Regions from separate parts of the Homo sapiens genome. Here region 1 is linked to region 2. The links come from fine-mapping of genetic effects on gene expression. A gene starts in region 2. The other region holds a variant in brackets. All regions are shown on one strand. Distances are from middle to middle.

Region 1 (5,370 bases), 85 kb after region 2:
GGGTGAGATCTGGTAGGCCAAGGCTGTCTTTTCCAGAGAAGCAAGCACGTTAGGTGGGCCATGATTCAATTTAGTTCTTCAGTTCCAGGCATATCTAGTCCTAGAACACAGGGTGCCTGGATTTTTAGCCTTGTGGTCAGTATCTTTTGATCTCAAAATTGTTTCCTGATTTTTTAAACAGAAATCTATTTCATGATAGTTAAAAAAAGCCTTATTGAGGTATAATTGACTTATAATAAATGATACATAAAGTGTAAAATTTGAGTTGTTTTTTTTTTTTTTTTTGAGACGGAGTCTTGCGCTGTTGCCCAGGCTGGAGGGCAGTGGCGCGATCTGGGCTCACTGCCAGCTCTGCTTCCTGGGTTCACGCCATTCTTCTGCCTCAGCCTCCCGAGTAGCTGGGACTACAGGCGCCCGCCACCACGCCCGGCTAATTTTTTGTATTTTCAGTAGAGACGGGGTTTCACCGTGTTAGCCAGGATGGTCTTCATCTCCTGACTTCATGATTTGCCTGCCTCGGTCTCCCAAAGTGCTGGGATTACAGGTGTGAGCCACCGCGCCTGGCCAAGTTTTTTGTTTTTTTGAGACAGAATTTTGCTCTTGTTGCCTAGGCTGAAGAGCAGTGGCGTGATTTCGACTCACTGCAACCTCTGCCTCCCAAGTTCAAGCGATTCTCCTGCCTCAGCCTCCTGAATAGCTGGGATTATAGGCATGCACCACCACGCCTGGCTAATTTTGTATTTTTAGTAGAGATGGGGTTTTTCCATGTTGGTCAGGCTGGTCTCGAACTCCCGACCTCAGGTGATCCATTCACCTCAGCCTCCCAAAGTGCTGGGATTATAGGCGTGAGCCTCTGCACACGGCCAAATTTGAGTTTTCATATATGTATAAATCTGTGAAACCGTCACCACAGTCAAGATAACAAACACAGCGTATCGTCACCCCAAACATTTTCTCGTGCTCCTTTGTAATCCCTCCCACCCCCATCCCTTTCTGTCTTGATAGCTGCAAGTGCATTTTTTAGATTTTTATATAAATGTTGTCATACAGTAGGTATTCTTTTGAGTACATACTGGCTTCTTCACTCAATATAATTATTTTGAGATTCATCCATGCTGCGGAATGTGTTAATAGCTTATTCCTTTTTATTGCTGAGTAGTATTCCATTGTATGGCTGTACACAACTTACCAATTTGCTTCTTGATAGACACTGTTTGTTTCCAGCTTTTGGATATTACAAATAAAAGTACTATGAACAAGTCTTTGTGTGGACATATGCTTTCATTTCTCTTGGTTAAATACCTAGGAATGGAATGGTCAGATTATATGGTAGGTATACATTCAGTTTTTAAAGAAACTGTCAAATTGTTTTCCAAAGAAGTTGTACCATTTACATTTTCACTGGGAGAGTTCCAGTTGCTTCACACACTTGCCACCACTTGGTATGGTCATTCTTTTTCATTTTAGCCATTCTAGTAAGTGGTTTCTCTTCATGGTTTTTTGTTTTTGTTTTTGTTTGTTGAGACGGAGTCTCATTCTGTCGCCCAGACTGGAGTGCAGTGGTGCAATCTTGGCTCACTGCAACCTCTGTCTCCTGGGTTCAAGCAATTCTGCCTCAGCCTCCTGAATAGCTGGGATTACAGGCGCCCGCCACCGCACCCATCTAATTTTTGCGTTTTTGGTAGAGATGGGGTTTCATCATGTTGGCCAGGCTGGTCTCAAACTCTTAACCTCAGGTGATCCACCCACCTCAGCCTCCCAAAGTGTTGGGATCACAGGCATGGGCCGCCGTGCCCCACCTTTTCATGCTTTAATTTGCATTTCCTTAATGACTAGACGTTGAGCATCTTTTCATGTGCTTGCTAGCCATCTGTATATATCTTCCTTGGTTAAGTGACCATTAAGATCTTTTGCCTATTTTATTTATTATTTTTTTTTAGAGTTGGGGAGGTCTTGCTGTTGCCTAAGCTGGAGTGCAGCATTGCAATCCTAGTTCACCACAGCCTCCAACTCCTAGGCTTAGGCAGTCCTCTTGCCTCAGCCTCCTGAGTAGCTGGGACTACAGGCATGTGTCACCAAGCCCAGCTAATTTTTTTGTTTTTTTTTTGTAATGTAGAGATGAGGTCTTGTTATGTTGCACAGGCTGGTTTTGAACTCCTGGGCTCAAGTGTTGCTCCCACCTTGGCCTCCTAAAGTGTTGGGATTACAGGTATAAGCCATTGCACTTGGCCCATGCCCATTTAAAAAATTGGGTTGTTTTCTTATTGAAATTTGAGCATGCTTTATATATTCTGGTTACAAGCAAGCCCTTTATCAGATACATGATTTGCAAATGTTTTCTCTCTGTGTGTGGTTTGTCTATGCATTATCTTAACATGTCTTTTGAAAAACAAAAGTTCTCAATTTTGATGAAGTCCAATTTATCAATTTTTTTTATAGATTGTGTTTTTGGTAGATATATTAAAGGTATTTGCTTAAACCAAGGGTGCGAAGATTTTCTTCTTGTGTTTTCTTCTCTTGAGTTTTATAGTTTTAGGCTTCACCTGTAGGCCTATGATCGATTTTGATTTTTTTTTTTTTTTTTCGAGGTGGAGTTTCACTCTTGTTGCCCAGGCTGGAGTGCAATGGCACTATCTCGGCTCACCACAACCTCCGCCTCCCAGATTCAAGCGATTCTCCTGCCTCAGCCTCCCGAGTAGCTGGGATTACAGGCATGCACCACCATGCCTGGCTAATTTTGTATTTTTAGTAGAGACAGGGTTTCACCTTGTTGGTCAGGCTGGTTCGGAGCTCCCGACCTCAGGTGATCTACCCGCCTCAGGCTCCGAAAGTGCTGGGATTACAGGCATGAGCCACTGGGCCTGGCTATTCTGAATTTTTTATGCGGTTCAAGGAATGGATCAAAGTAGTTGTTCTTTGTTCCTCTTTCTTCCTCCTCCTCCTCCTTCTTCTCTTCTTTCTTCCTCCTCTTCCTCCTCCTTTTTTTAACTTCATTTTGTAGATGAACTCCTTCCTTCCTTCTTCCTTTCTTTCCTCCTCCTCCTC[CTCT/T]TCATTTTTCTTTCTTCCGTGTTTCGCAGTACCATTCTGTTGAAAGGCCTGTTCTTTCTTCAGGGAGCTGCCTTTGCACCTAGGTCTTTAAAAAATGTTTTTTCTCAGCAATGTTGAAAATTTTTCAGTGTACAGGACTTCACATCTTTTGTTAGATTTATACCTAAGTATTTCTTATTTTTTGATACTATTGTTAATGGTAATTTTTAAATACCTGAACTTACAGTAGAGTTTGTATAGAATTGACATCAATTCTTCCTTAAATATTTGGAGGAATTTTCCATTGAAGCTATTTGTGCCTGGAGTTTCCTTTGAAGATTTTTAACTAAAAATTCAATTCCTTTTAGGGCTGTTCAGATTGTTTATTTATTTTGGAGTGAACTTTGCATTTCATCTTTCAAAGAATTTGTGTATTTCATCCAAATTGTCAGATTTATTGACATAAAGTTTTTCATACTATTACCTTATTCTTCACTCCTCTGTTAGCCTTTATACTTTCTCTGGAATCCACAGTGATGACATCTCTCTTCTGATAGTAGTATTTTTTTTTTTTTAAGATGGAGTCTCGTTCTGTCGCCCAGGCTGCAGTGCAGTTGTGTAATCTTGGCTTCCTGTAACCTCTGCCTCCCAGGTTCAAGCGATTCTCCTGCCTTAGCCTCCTGAGTAGCTGGGACCACAGGCATGTGCCACCACACCTGGCTAATTTTTGTATTTTTAGTAGACAGGGTTTCGCCATGTTGGCCAGGCTGGTCTCGAACTCCTGACCTCAGATGATCTGCTGGATCATCTCCCAAAGTGTTGGGATTACAGGTGTGAGCCACCATGCCTGGCCTGGTATTTTGTATTCTTTATTTTTTTTTGCTGATCAGACTGTCTAGAGGTTTATTAATATTACTGATCTCAAAAAAACAACTTTTGTTTTTCTTATTTTCTCTATTTTTCTGTTTTCAATTTCAGTAATGTCCACTCTCATCTTTATTATTTCTTACTGCTGGGTTTCATTTGCTCTTCTTTTGTAATTTCCTTTTTTTTCAGGTTCAAGCGATTCTCCTGCCTCAGCCTCCCACGTTGCTGGGATTACAGGCGTGCATCACCACACCCAACTAATTTTTGTATTTTAGTATTCACCATGTTGGCCAGGCTGGTCTCGAACTCCTGTCCATTCACCATGTTGGCCAGGCTGGTCTCGAACTCCTGACCTCAAGTGATCTGCCTGCCTCAGCCTCCCAGAATGCTGGGATTACAGGCATGAGCCACCACGCCCAGCCCTTGCTGGTTTTCTATCTGCTTGTTCTATCAAGAGGGTTATTAAAAGCTCTGACTTTAATTGTGGATTCGTCTATTAGCAGTTACAGTAGTTTCTGTTTCATGAATTTTGAAGTTTCTTTTGTAAATTTTAATAGATACATAAACATTTAGGATTATGTCCTCTTGAATCAATCCCTTTATCATTATTAAATGACCTTCTTTATTCCTGGTAATATTTGCACTGAAGTCTACTTTGTGTGATATTAATACACTCCAGCTAGCCTTTTTTTGAGACAGAGTCTCACTCCTGTTGCCCAGGCTGTAGTGCAGTAGCACGATTATAGCTCACTGCAGCCTTAACTTTCCAGGCTCAGGTGATCCTCCCACCTCAGCCTCTCGAGTAGCTGGGACTATAGGCGTTTGTCCCAATACCCGGCTAATTTTTTGTATTTTTAGAGAGATGGCATTTTGCCATGTTGCTCAGGCTGGTCCTGAACTCCTGGGCTCAAGTGATCCTTCTGCATCAGCCTCCCAAAATGCTGGGATTATGGAGATGACAGGAATGAGCCATGTACCTGCCCTTCCAGCTATCCTTTGATTAGTGTTAACATGGTATATCTTTTTTATTCTTTTATTTTCTCTTATTTATGCCTATATAAAGTGAGTTTGTTTTAGGTAATATGTAGTTGTATCTTGATTTTTTCCCTACATGACAAATTCTGCCTTTCAGTTGGAGTGTTTAGATCGTTCTGCGTATTTATTGATTAGGCAAGTTTAATTAAAATCTACCATATTACCCTTTGTTTTCATTTGTACCATCTGTTTGTCTTTTTTTTTTCCTTCTTTTGGATTATTTTTTATTCTCTTCTATGTTGGCTTACTTGCCACAACTCTTGTGTTATTTTAGTCGGGTTCATCATTAACTTATCATAGACTACCTTCAAGTGATGGACCACTTTACCTGTAGTTTGAGAGCCTTAAAACAGTGTGCTTCTGTTTCTCTCTTCCCACCTTTGGTGCTACTATTGTCAAAATTTTACTTCTGTGTATGTTATAAACTGCACAATACAGTAT
Region 2 (5,302 bases):
CATTCTAAAAGTGCATGGGGTGTGGGCTGAGCCACTCCACATCTGCCCATGTGCACCTCCTCCACTGTCATTCTCCTGGAGGCCCTGTGTCCTGACCTTCCACTCCACTTTCACCTAGAGGCCGGACTGCACTCTGTCAAGCGGGTGCTCACGTGCTTTTGCCTCCTTGCAGGTGGACAAACTGGATGCCTTGGAGAGTCTGCGCAAGCAAGAGGAGCATGTGACAGAGCCTGCCCCTCTCGTGTTTGGTAGGTGGCACCTGTAGCCCCCAACCCCCTGGGGAGGGAGCAGGGAGGGAGTCAAAGTCCCACTGCCCTTACCTGGCTGGGCTTTGGATGGGGATGGGAATAGATGGGTGGGGGCTGGAAGGATCCCAGTGGCTACTGGGTGTGGAGAAGTGTACGCCCAGGAATGTTGGCACGGCCGCTGTCCTCCCTGCTGTAAGGATGCCTGCCTTCTGATAGGGGTGCCTGCCTAGCTGTGAACTACTGCTGTGTCCTGCTGGGCCTGGCCCCTGGACAGCAAGGCTGCTGCTGGTGTGTGCTGGGAGGGGCTTTGCACCTGAGAACCTGCCCAGGGCAGCCTGGCTGTCGAGCAGACTGGAGAGGCTGTGGGGTGCTTGGACACTGTGGGGCAAACACAGGCCTGAGGGTGTGGTGTGAGTGTGCAGCACGCCGGCGGGTCTCCAGCGTCCGGCTGAGTGTGTCCTTCCACCATTAATGTCATTCTGGTTTTTTTAGATTTTGATGGGCATGAATGAGACCCAGCTGATTGCACTAAGTAAGTGTCCCATTTGGAGACTAGCTTATCCTCTAGCCAGGCCAGGTTCTCTGGCTGACCCCACGCTCCTTGCCTCTGGATGCCTGCTCTCTTGGGGCCTCAGCGTCTGGGTGGTAAGGGCTGGTCCTATAGACCCTGCTCCCTGGGCCCCGGGCTACTCAGGGGCAGCCAGGAGAGGACCCCCATGGGCAGGAAGAGCTCTGCTCATTGTGGGCTTCCCCCTCTGCAGGCCCTGCCGTGGGCCCAGCCCCTGCCAGCTTCCCCTATGGATATGCCTCTGCTCCCAACTTCGCCAGCCTCCAATGTACAACTTCCGCGTGTAGTGGGCGTTGTCACCACCCACCCTACCTGCAGAGTTACTAACTTCTCCAAGGAGCATGTCACTCCAGCAGCACAGGGGACGCAATGGGAGGCAGGGACACCTGGACAATATTTATTTTTGCTGAAACCCAATGACGGCAACCTCTGAGCCATCCCAGAGCCTGGGGAGGCCAGGGTAGAGGCTGACGGCGCAAGACCAGCTTTAGCCGACAACAGAGACTGGACTGTGGGCCCTCCTGCTGGAGCCAGGCCTTCCTCCTGGGCGCCTCCGACTGGCTGGAGCTGCCCCCTCCAGGCCAGTTTGAAGACTACATGAACACGTCTTGTTTGGAGGTACCGGACCTCATAAAAGGACTCTCAGCCTCTTGGCAATCATAAATATTAAAGTCGGTTTATCCAGGCAAAGGTGCTCTGCTTGGTGCTGGTATGGGTAGGAGGGACGGGCCAGTTTCCTAGGCCCCGCAGTCCATTAAAGATTTGCTGGGTCCTCTTTGGGGTGTGGGACCTCCGTTGCCCAGACAAGCTGCCTAGGAGAATACAGCCGCTTGCATTTGTGGTCTTTCCTGACCTTGTTCGCTGAGCGCAGAAACTACAACCGGGAAAGGTGTGGGTGGGAACCGGCAGGTGAGGCCCGGCCCGTGGCTGCTGCGGGAGGGGGGCCCGGCGGCGTAGCCCCTTCTCACCGGCCTCCCGCCTCCCGCCTCCAGGTTTGAAACGTTAGAGTTCCTCTGGGACTGGGCTAGCCCCACGTGTTTTCGGGGAGGGTGTGCCCCTGGCCTCCGGGATCCCTGGGGATCCCGCCGCTCTCGACAGTCGCGCAGACCCGAGGCCCGCTATCCCGCGGCGCGGCACACAGTGCACCTTGACCCACTGCTCGGAGCTGGGCCACGGCTCCGCCTCCCGCAGCCCCGCCCCCGTCCCGCCGCTCGCGGTCGCCCAGGGACTCGGCCTCGGCCATTGGCTGCGCTTTGGCCCCGCCCCTACGCCTGCCTCGGCGCGCCCCGCCCAGGCCTCAGTTTCCCGGCCCGCACGGGGCGGGCTGGGGGCGGGGCCTGGCTCGGACCACGCGGGGCGGGACCTGGAGCTGACGCGGCCGCCCCGCCCCTGGGACCATAACCGGCCGCCGCCGCCACCGCGGACCGAGCGCGGAGTTCTGGAGTCTCGGACCCGAAGCCGCCACAGGGCGCCCCGCCTCCCGCCCGCCATGCCCGCGCCCCGCGCCCCGCGCGCTCTGGCGGCCGCCGCGCCCGCGTCCGGGAAGGCCAAGCTGACGCACCCGGGGAAGGCGATCCTGGCAGGTGGGCCCCTCCGGGACGCGGACCCCTCTCCCGCCGCGCTTCTGGGTGGGCCCGGGACGCTGAGGCCCCGCCCCACTTCCGGGTTGGGCCGTGGGCTGGGGAGTCGTGGAGGCGCGGTCCTGGTCCCCACCCGGCGCGCTGGGACTCGCCCGCCTCCCGTCTGTCACCCCCTGCGCCTCGCCGGGACAACGGGGTGAGGGCATGGGGGCGTGGGGCCCCAGCCTATGTTCCCCGCGGCACTGGCGCGGCGGCCGCGCCGACCGAAGTCCGGGACGGGGGAGGGGCCCGAGCGCCAGCGGCCGGGCGGGAGTCTCAGGAGCGGGTTCCCGGTCCCTGCAGGCGGCCTGGCGGGTGGCATCGAGATCTGCATCACCTTCCCCACCGAGTACGTGAAGACGCAGCTGCAGCTGGACGAGCGCTCGCACCCGCCGCGGTACCGGGGCATCGGTGAGGAGGGGGAGGCCGCGGCGCCGCGGGGGGCGGGTACCCAGGGCGGCGGCACCGAGGGCCGTGGGGTCCTGACCGCCCCCTCCCCCAGGGGACTGCGTGCGGCAGACGGTTCGCAGCCATGGCGTCCTGGGCCTGTACCGCGGCCTTAGCTCCCTGCTCTACGGTTCCATCCCCAAGGCGGCCGTCAGGTGAGGCCCGGCCGGTGGCTGCTGCGGGAGGGGGGCTCGGCCGCGGCAGCCCCTCTCACCCGCCTCCCGCCTCCAGGTTTGGAATGTTCGAGTTCCTCAGCAACCACATGCGGGATGCCCAGGGACGGCTGGACAGCACGCGTGGGCTGCTGTGCGGCCTGGGCGCTGGCGTGGCCGAGGCCGTGGTGGTCGTGTGCCCCATGGAGACCATCAAGGTGGGGAAGGTCCTGGCGAGGACCCCGGACACGCAGGGAGTACGGAGACGGGCGGCCCCGCTGGCCCGGTGCTCCCGGGGCAACCGGCAAGCTGGGGAGGGTCTCCTGGACGCCAGGGAAGGCCGGCGGGGTGACCGCGGGGCCCTGGGGCAGGACGCCTGCCACGAAGGGCCACCCGTGGAGGCTGAGTCTATGCTAAAGGCAGCCTTAAAGTCTTTAAAAAATACTTTTATAAAGCAGAAAACAAAATGACACCTTCACTGCCAAAACTGGAAAAGAGCAGCAAACATAAAGGGAGAGGCTGCTCACAGGGCTGCCCTGTGTCCCAGAGCATGGTCCGTGTGGGCTGCCCTGTGTCCCGGGGCATGGTCCGTGTGGGCAGCCCAGGGCGGCCTTGGCTGCACTGCTTCCTGGGGAAGAGTTCCCAGTTCCCTCCACCCTGGATGGGCCCTGGGCCTGCCAGCTAGCCAGGACCCACCCAGGTGGCAGCCGAGAACCTGCGCCTTTGCTTCTCTCTCTCAGGTGAAGTTCATCCACGACCAGACCTCCCCAAACCCCAAGTACAGAGGATTCTTCCACGGGGTTAGGGAGATTGTGCGGGAACAAGGTGAGCCACTCGACCTTCCTGATAGGGCTCAGGGACCTGGGCCAGGGTGGGAAGGGCCTGCACCTCCCATCCTGCCTTGGGCTTTGTGCAACACCCACCCCCCACACACACCAATTCCCAACCGGGGCCTGAGAGGCTGCAGGGTAACCCCGTGCCTGCCTTCCCGCAGGGCTGAAGGGGACGTACCAGGGCCTCACAGCCACTGTCCTGAAGCAGGGCTCGAACCAGGCCATCCGCTTCTTCGTCATGACCTCCCTGCGCAACTGGTACCGAGGTGTGTCTGCATCACAGGGCCCCATCTCTGCACATGGCCAGCTCCTCTCCTCTCCTTGGGGCCACCCCTGGGTGGCGGGCACCCACCTTTTGAAGTGCTGATCCAGGCCCCTCCCGGCACCCTCTGACCCACCTCACCCCTCCTATATCCAGGGGACAACCCCAACAAGCCCATGAACCCTCTGATCACTGGGGTCTTCGGAGCTATTGCAGGCGCAGCCAGTGTCTTTGGAAACACTCCTCTGGATGTGATTAAGACCCGGATGCAGGTGGTGGGGCCGGGAAGGGGAGGGGAAGGGGGGACCAGGCCAGAGCTAGCTGCTGAGCCCCTGCCTGCTGATGTCCCCCATAGGGCCTGGAGGCGCACAAATACCGGAACACGTGGGACTGCGGCTTGCAGATCCTGAAGAAGGAGGGGCTCAAGGCGTGAGTGGGGGAGGGGCAGGGCTATTGTCCCCACCTCAAACCTTTCCCGGCCTACCTGGCCTGCCCACTCTGTCCCCTTCAGGCCTCTGTGCCTCTCACTTCAGTATCTGGGGATTGCCCTGTGCAGGGACACTGTGCTGACCTGCCTTCCTCTCCCCGCCCCTCCTCCCACCCAGATTCTACAAGGGCACTGTCCCCCGCCTGGGCCGGGTCTGCCTGGATGTGGCCATAGTGTTTGTCATCTATGATGAAGTGGTGAAGCTGCTCAACAAAGTGTGGAAGACGGACTAAGCCTAGAGAGGCCGCAAGGGGACCGCCCCAGGCACCGCCAGAGTGTCCTGCTACCTTTGTCTCACGATTCCAGTGCAGTAGTGCCAAAAGGCCCCTTCCCACGTCCCTCGAGCTCTGTAGCCTGGTCTGTGCATTGTGGCTGTCAAATCCATGTGTCCCCCCTGTGGTCTGTGTGTGACACCACCACTGTGTCCCAGTGTCTGGCCCAGCCATGGCTGGATGTGCATCTGGCCTATGACCCTGTGCCTGTGTTTCATGTTCTGTGTCACGTGACCCTGTGCCCCGCCTCCCGGGGTGCCCGTGTGGCCTGGGTCCTCGGCCCTGTAGCCCTGGCCCGGTCCCAGTCCGGTGCCTTCCACCCTGCCCTGGCCTACCACAGCTGCCTCCGGGCCTCGGCCTGGCTTCACCGCATTCCAGGGGCTGCAGCCCCCTGCTTCTCCCGCCATTGGCCTT

The links.
Region 1: its variant is fine-mapped to the expression of SLC25A1 in whole blood (INTERVAL, PIP 0.96).

What each region holds. Positions count from the first base shown.
Region 1 is chr22:19,090,576-19,095,945 of GRCh38, reverse strand. All of the region lies in intron 1 of DGCR2 (DiGeorge syndrome critical region gene 2), which reads left to right. It overlaps LOC124905078 (a long non-coding RNA gene), which reads left to right. Exons shown (of 2, transcript XR_007068002.1): 2 at 1-1,259. Among named protein-coding and RNA genes, the nearest start is that of DGCR2, 29 kb to the left of the region's middle. The variant CTCT/T (reference allele first, on the strand shown) is at 3,046.
Region 2 is chr22:19,175,677-19,180,978 of GRCh38, reverse strand. SLC25A1 (solute carrier family 25 member 1) reads left to right here and starts at 2,243. Exons shown (of 9, transcript NM_005984.5): 1 at 2,243-2,399; 2 at 2,739-2,846; 3 at 2,938-3,037; 4 at 3,114-3,252; 5 at 3,775-3,859; 6 at 4,029-4,133; 7 at 4,286-4,401; 8 at 4,485-4,558; 9 at 4,735-5,302. The coding sequence starts at 2,306. The coding sequence ends at 4,849. It overlaps CLTCL1 (clathrin heavy chain like 1), which reads left to right. Exons shown (of 33, transcript NM_007098.4): 31 at 173-248; 32 at 741-780; 33 at 1,010-1,506. The coding sequence ends at 760. RefSeq lists silencers at 1,647-1,746, 1,947-3,026 and enhancers at 2,198-2,945, 5,196-5,302.